Linked DNA regions of Homo sapiens. The protein of the gene in region 1 purifies or fractionates together with the protein of each later gene. This does not show direct contact. Each region holds a gene or a part of one and is shown on either strand. Other genes may lie near its edges. The genes, in order: SPECC1 and KSR2.

Region 1 (3,822 bases):
AATAACAGCAGACTTGATCTGTTCTATATTAATTTTTCCAGCTTCAAAACCAACAAACAATTGAAGGTTTAAAAAAAAGAAAGTGGCTGGGCACGGTGGCTCACGCCTGTCATCCTAGCACTTGGGAGGCCAAGGCGGGGAGATCACCTGAGGTCAGGAGATCGAGACCAGCCTGGCCAACATGGTGAAACCCCATCTCTACTAAAAAAAAAAAAACAAAAAAACGAAATACAGTAAATTAGCCGAGCATGGTGGCTCGCGCCTGTAGTTCCAGCTATTCGGGATGCTGAGGCAGGAGAATCACTTAAACTTTGGAGGCAGAGGTTGCAGTGAGCTGAGGTCGCACATTGCATTCCAGCCTGGGCAACAAGAGCAAAACTCCATCTCAAAAAAATAAAAAAAGAAAGAAAAAGTCAGCCTTAATTTAGTGATGTTATTAAGAATAACAAATGCCAGTGTGATGATCAGTCCTGGACTCTCAGGTTTGCCTGTTCTGACTAGAGTTATGGTGAAACTTTAGTTATCTTCCAGTTTTTAATACGGTCCTTGCTGCAATGACTTTATTCTAGAGAACTAGCATTACTAAAACATTTTAGTGCTTAGTGGTTTTTAATACTTATTTCACAAGAATAATTAAATAAGTCTTTTCCTCGTTGAGTGTGTAGTATGATGCAGGTTAGGTATCTGTGACACCTATAAGTAAGGCTGACCCATGAACAACACTAGCTTGAACTGTGTGGGTCCATTTATATGGAGACTTAAAAAAAATAAATACATTGGAAAATTATTTGGAGAGTTGCAACAGTTTGAAAAAAATTCAGATGAACTGGGTAGTCTAGAAATATGAAAACAATTGAGAAAAAGTTACATATGTCATGAATGCATAAAATACATGTAGATACTAATAATCAGTTTTATCATTTACTACCATAAAATATACACAAATCTATTATAAAAAGTTAAAATTTGTCTAAACTTATGCACACACAGACTGTACATGGTGCTATTCATAGTTGAGAGAAATGTAAACAAATATAAAGATGCAGTATTATAACTGCATACAATTAACTGTAGTACATACAGTACTCCTGTAACAATTCTATAGCCACTTCCTGATGTTGTTGCAGTGCGCTCAAGCATTGGGGGTAGCTGCTTGGAAGGTACTGTGATGCTAATCATCTCTGTGGGAGCAGTTCCTCTCTCCAGTACACCTCAGATCGCAGTAAAAAGTGACCTCTTGAGATTCTTGAGTATGTTTTGTTGTGTTTAGTGCAGTACCACAAACCTTGAATAACACTATGGGACCCATACAAAGTGCCACTAGTGATGCTGGCAGTGCTCCCTAGAAGCCAATAAAACCCCTGACAGCATTGAATTGCTTGCTAGATTGAGGAATGGTTGCCTGTCGCTTCAGACAGATGATTCATTTTGCAAACAGACCATGTAAACTTATGGTATTGATAAATACAGTATGGTACTGCAAATGTATTTCCTCTTCCTTATGGTTTTCTGAATAACATTTTCTTTTTTCTATCTCATTTTATCTTAAGAATACAGTATATAATACATATAACACAAAGTGTGTGTTAACTGTTTATGTTTTCAGTCAGGCTTCCGGTCAACAATAGGCTATTAGTAGTTAAGTTTCTGGGGAGCCAAAAGTTATACACAGAGTTTTGACTGCATGAAAGGTTGGCACCCCTAACCTCCAAGTTGTTCAGGGGTCAACTATATTAAAAGTCTATGATATACTCTTGGCTTTCCAGAAACTTAATTTGAAGAAGTTAATTTAAAAACCATAGTTTTCTATATATTAATTTGACAGTTCAGCCTTTATTAGGTCAAAGTTTCAAAAGAGCTCAGCTGTTAGATGTTTAGTAATGAATGCCATCAGCCTTTATGTCATCAGGATTCAGGATGTTTAGGTGTGTGTTTGCTCAGGGCTCAGAAATAGTCTTGGTGGTGGGTTTACAGCTGCCCATCTTGTTAGGTGTGGAACCTGCCTTAGCGCTGGGGCTGCTGCCAGTCTATGGGAACATTCCCTCCCGTGCCCTTCCTACACTGTAGAGGCCTACAGGTTGATGACCACTTCTGGGACCCTTCATTACACCTCTCACTGAAAGCATGTAGAGTTGTGTAAGTGACAGCAGCCAGCCTTGACTCATCAAATAGTCTTTCAGTTTGTAAAAAAAAAAAAAAAAAAGTCCAGGATTTTATTTTACACTGTAACATCTGAGGTGGGTTTCAATTCTAGAGCACAATGGAGACTGATGTCTGGGTTTCACCCCTAGAATTGTTTTTACATTGTCTGTGATATAGTACAGATGAAAATAAAAGAGAATTATTTACACCTTACATTTGCTGTTACAAGTATTCTGTATTATGTCTATATCATGTCAAGTAACATAGGTATGTTCTTATTTCATTTATTCTTGTTTCTCCATGTACACAAATGAGTACATCATTTCCACTTACGGCAAAAGTGATATGTCATTGTATCAGATCCATCTCTCAGTATTATCTGTATCTTCTGATTTCTTAATCAAATTTATGCTGTCAAAATATGTTAATGATGTTTTTTAAAGTGTTTATTGAGAAATTCACAAAGAACTTGTATTTTGTCAAAAGGCCATTGTTTTTGTTGCCAACATTATCAGTGCAGATGTACTAAATTGCAAGTTACAGAAAACCCAGCTCAAGGTGACTTATAGGAAGGGTATTTACTGGCTTGCCTAACTGAAAGGCCAGCTATAGGCCAAACTTCAGGGTTGATTTGATTTAGCAACTTAACAATGCTATTGAGAGTTTAGTTTCCTTCTTCCTTCTCTGCCATCTGCATTCCCACCTTCCTCTTGAAAGGGCAGGGTGGTTGCCAGCCATTCCCACACCTACACATTTTCTCACTCTGGTCCCGTGGTGTTTAATAGCTTGCCCAGAAAACCTTCCCTTTGTCACATTGATCTTAATTGAGTTGTGTGCCCATGCGTGAACCAGCAACTGGCTGGGGATGGGGTCATCCTGAGTAGCTCAGGCTTGGAGTCAGCCTCACCCAAAGTATAGGGCTGTGGGGAGGAAGCACAGAAACCACAGTCAGAACTGGGTAATTAGCTAGAGGAGGAGGAAATGGATGAAGAGCGACAGCCACTGTCCACTGTGCCATGTGATTTACAGTCATTTGGGTTTTGTTTATAAGAATGCTTGCTTTATTTTTTCATTTTTTTCTTCTTCTGTCTTTAAGGGGCCTTTACAACAACTAAACGGACAGGCATTCCAGCCCCACGGGAATTTTCAGTAACTGTCTCAAGAGAGAGGTCTGTGCCACGTGGTCCCTCCAACCCCAGGAAATCAGTGTCCAGTCCAACTTCTTCCAACACTCCCACTCCTACGAAACACCTGAGGACCCCTTCCACAAAGCCCAAGCAAGAGAATGAAGGTGGAGAAAAGGCTGCGCTTGAGTCCCAAGTTCGGGAACTTTTGGCAGAAGCCAAAGCAAAAGATAGTGAAATTAACAGGCTTCGAAGTGAACTAAAGAAATACAAAGAGAAAAGGACTCTGAACGCTGAGGGGACTGATGCTTTGGGCCCAAATGTCGATGGAACATCAGTCTCCCCAGGTGACACGGAACCTATGATAAGAGCTCTTGAGGAGAAGAACAAGAACTTTCAGAAAGAGCTTTCCGATCTAGAGGAAGAAAACCGGGTCCTGAAGGAGAAACTGATCTATCTTGAGCACTCCCCAAATTCAGAAGGGGCAGCAAGTCACACTGGCGACAGCAGCTGCCCAACATCCATAACTCAAGAGTCAAGCTTCGGAAGCCCAACT
Region 2 (3,822 bases), on another chromosome or scaffold:
ATTCCTGTGTAAGTTTCTTCGAAGTTTTCTTTTTTTTTGTTTCAAACATGCTCCATCCTCTGATAGCTTCCTGGATGGGGATGTGCCGCAGTGGGCATTGCCTTCTTTCTGCCTAGTGGTTTTCCTTTTAAACTGGGGGGATGGAGGCACTGGTAGGATGGCTATGGGGGAGTTGCAGTTGTAGGAAATGCATCTGTTTTCAGTTCCCTTGTCCCAGTATGCTACAGAGCATGCAACCACTTTCATCCATCTTGCCCAGGGAATGCTCTTGAGCAATTATTCCAATTTGTATTTCCCAGATTTGCAGGGTTAGGGAGGGCCCCTGCAGAGGGGCTGGTAACTTAGGGTCCAGCCAAGTCCAGCCAACGCTAACATTTGGGTCCACGGAATTTTCTAATTTTGTATATCAAAACCATATGAGGGTGCTTGTTAAAATGCAGATTCTTAGCCTCTAACCCTAGAGATTCTAGTTTAGCTGGGATTAGCAAGAGGGTCAAGGAATCTGCGTTTAATAAACAGTCCAGGTATTTCTGATACATGTTTTCAAATGGACACTTTGAGATGCTAAACCATTAGGAGAAAGATGTGATATTTCAGCTCTTTAATGGTGAAAACTCACTGCTTGCTAACACTAATGCAAGTAATAAATTGAATAGATGATCCCTGAACAGTGCTGTGATAATGAACAGCACTTAATAGCATGTATACACTTCTGTAGAAACAAAAATATGCAAGGTGGACTTGGCCTTCAGGAAGCATACTTCATGATATAATAATGTGTATGTGAAATAATGATAAAGTCTAAGTGGTAAATAATATGGGGGACAATGTGTGAGCCCATTAGGCATGTGTTCAGCTGCATGAAATGGAAAACCCAATCCTAGCAGTAAGGCAAATAATGGTTTCTCTTCATGTAACAAGAATTCTGGAGACATATAGCTGCTTCAGTTGGCTCAGTAGGTTAGTAATACCAGGGCTGATGTCTTTGGGAATTCTCATGGCTTTTCTCTTATGGTTGCAAGATGGTTCCTGCAGCTTCAGCGATTACATCTGAGTTCAAGGTAGGAAAGAGGAGGACCTGGTGAGTGTGAAGGAATAAAGGGTTCCCCAGGACATCTCTTCCTCCTCACCTTGCAGATGATTTGATTATATCTTCTTGGCCAGAACTGAGTCCTAGCTGCAAGGGAGCCCGGGAAGTGGGGAAGTGGGACCACCACCAGGATCGGCTTAGATGGATCATGATCCATTGCCTGAAATGACATGTTGCCACTCCATGCAAAATCAGGGCTCTGCTAGTGTGGAAGGAGGCATAGGTAGATATTAAGTAAGTGGACAGCCAGCGATGGCAGCCATGGCACATAGTCAGAAGATATTTTGGTGGAAAAGAAAGTTCATGAACGTTGAGTCAGACTGATATAGTTGTAAATTCTAGCTTGTCTTTTTACTTTATCTTGGGCTAGTGATTTAAGTTTTCTGATTTATAGTTTTAAGTTTTTGGCAAAACAGCAATAATTAAATAATATTCCCTACTTCAGAGGATGGTTATAAGGATTGAAAGAGATAACGTTTTCAAGGGTCTAGCACTATCTGGAACAGAGTGGCTGCAGGTGCTAAATGAATGACAGCTGTGATGATGATAATGATTGGCATTACATGGTGTTGACTAGATGGCATGGAAGGGAGCAGTTCAGATTGGACAGAGAGAAGGAGGAGCTTGAGTAGCATTTCCAAAGTATGTTCTGTAGAACCCTAAATCTGTGGGATGTTAGCGTTTTTAATTCTTTCAACAAATGCTGACATCCAGGCACTGTACTTAATGCTGGTAGTCAATAAGTGTTCTGTGGACAAAACAAATTCTGTGGTTAATAAGTTTGGGAAGGGTTGAGTTAAGCAAAGGGAAACAGGCATCTTTACTGCAGGACTTTTCTCAGAGCCTTTAATATGCTACCTATGTGTATTAGGCCTCCAAGAGAGGATAGAACGGAGTCTCGCTCTTGTCACCCAGGCTGGAGTGCAGTGGCGCAATCTCAGCTCACTCTGCCTCCTGGGTTCCAGTGATTCTCTTGCCTCAGCCTCCCAAATAGCTGGGATTACAGATGCCCGCCACCATGCCCTGGTAATTTTTGTGTTTTTAGTAGAGACGAGCTTTTGCCATGATGGCCAGTCTGGTCTTGAACTCCTGACCTCAGATGATCTGCCCGCCTCGGCCTCCCAAAGTGCAGGCGTGAGCCACTGCACCCGGCCCAAGGATTTCTCCTGGGATTTTTGTTCCATAGGATACACCTGGGAAAACATTTGGCAAAGCAGGGAAACCTTCTTGGTTGGGGAGATGGGGATTTGGAGTGAAGGATGAGGAGGGTTTAGATTGCAGCAAAAGGGGAGAGCATGCTGGACAAGAACAACAAACCAGATGAAGGTATTTGAATGCCTTCATGGGGCAGCCTAGAGACCATTTTGCCCAGAATGGAGGGTACCTGGTAGCCTGTCATAGGAAATGAATTTAGGCCACTAACTTCTGGGATCCAACTAAAGATTAGAGAGTCAGACCAACAACGTTTCATCCCTTTGTGGAAGGAGATAGAAGTCTTCAAAGGTTTTGGAATGCATACAATAGAAAAGTATAAGCTTTTTTGTTTTGTTTTTTTTGAGGCAGGGTCTCACTCTGTAACTCAGGCTGGAGTGCAGTGGCACGATCATGGCTTACTGCAGCCTTGACCTCCAGGGCTCAAGAGATCCTCCTGCCTCAGCCTCTTGAGTAGCTGGGACTACAGGTATGCACCACCACGCTTGGCTAATTTTTTGTATTTTTTAAATAGAGACAAGGTATTGCTATGTTGCTCCAGCTGATCTTGAACTCCTGGGCTCAAGTGATTCGCCTGCCTTGGATGGCAGCCTACGGCAGGGGCTGGCAAACTTTTTCTGGAAAGGGACAGATAGTAAAGAGTTTAGGCTTTGTGGACCCTGCAATTTTTATCAAAGCTACTCGACTCTGTGCTGTAGCATGTAGCAGCCATGGGCAGTACATACATGAATGGGTGGGGCAGTTTTCTTTTTATTTTGAGACAGGGTCTCGCTCCGTTGCTCAGGCTGGAGTGCAGTGGCGTGATCTCGGCTCATTGCAACCTCCGCTTCCCAGTTTCAAGTGATTCTCCTGTCTCGGCCTCCTGAGTAGCTGGGATTACAAGCCTGCACCATCACGCCTGGCTAATTTTTGTATTTTTAGTAGAGACAGGGTTTCAGACCAGCCTATTGGCCAGGCTGGTCTCAAACTCCCGACCTCCAGTGATCCGCCCACCTCAGCCTCCCAAAGTGCTGGGATTATAGGCGTGAGCCATCAAGCCGGGCCTGGTGGGGCAGTTTTCTAATAAAACTTTATTTGTGGACCCTGAAACTTGAAATTGATATACTTTTTGCATGTCATGAATATTTTTCTTTTGATTTTTTTTTTGATGTTTATAGTTGTACAAACTGTAGTTTCTGGGCCTTACAAAAACAGGTGATGGTGGCCAGGCACAGTGGCTCACGCCTGTAATCCCAGCACTTTGGGAGGCTGAGGTGAGTGGATCACTTGAGGTCAGGAGTTTGAGACCAGCCTGGCCAACATGGCGAAACCCCGTCTCTACTAAAAATACAAAAATTAGTGGGGCATGGCAGCGGGTACCTGTAATCCCAACTACTCGGGAGGCTAAGGCAGGAGAATCACTTGAACCTGGGAGGTGGAGGTTGCAGTGAACCAAGATGGCACCATTGCACTCCAGCCTGGGTGACAGAGGGAGACTACATCTCAAAAAAAAAAAAACCCAAAAAACAAAACAAAACAAA

What was found.
Region 2: the proteins of SPECC1 (region 1) and KSR2 purify together in Homo sapiens (co-immunoprecipitation; one large-scale study listed by IntAct). This does not show direct contact.

The regions. Positions count from the first base shown.
Region 1 is NC_000017.11:20,201,095-20,204,916, forward strand, and holds part of SPECC1 (cytospin-B), read left to right. Parts: intron 1-3,238; coding exon 3,239-3,822.
Region 2 is NC_000012.12:117,962,427-117,966,248, reverse strand, and holds part of KSR2 (kinase suppressor of Ras 2), read left to right. Parts: intron 1-3,822. UniProt on the Homo sapiens protein: Location-regulated scaffold connecting MEK to RAF. Has very low protein kinase activity and can phosphorylate MAP2K1 at several Ser and Thr residues with very low efficiency (in vitro).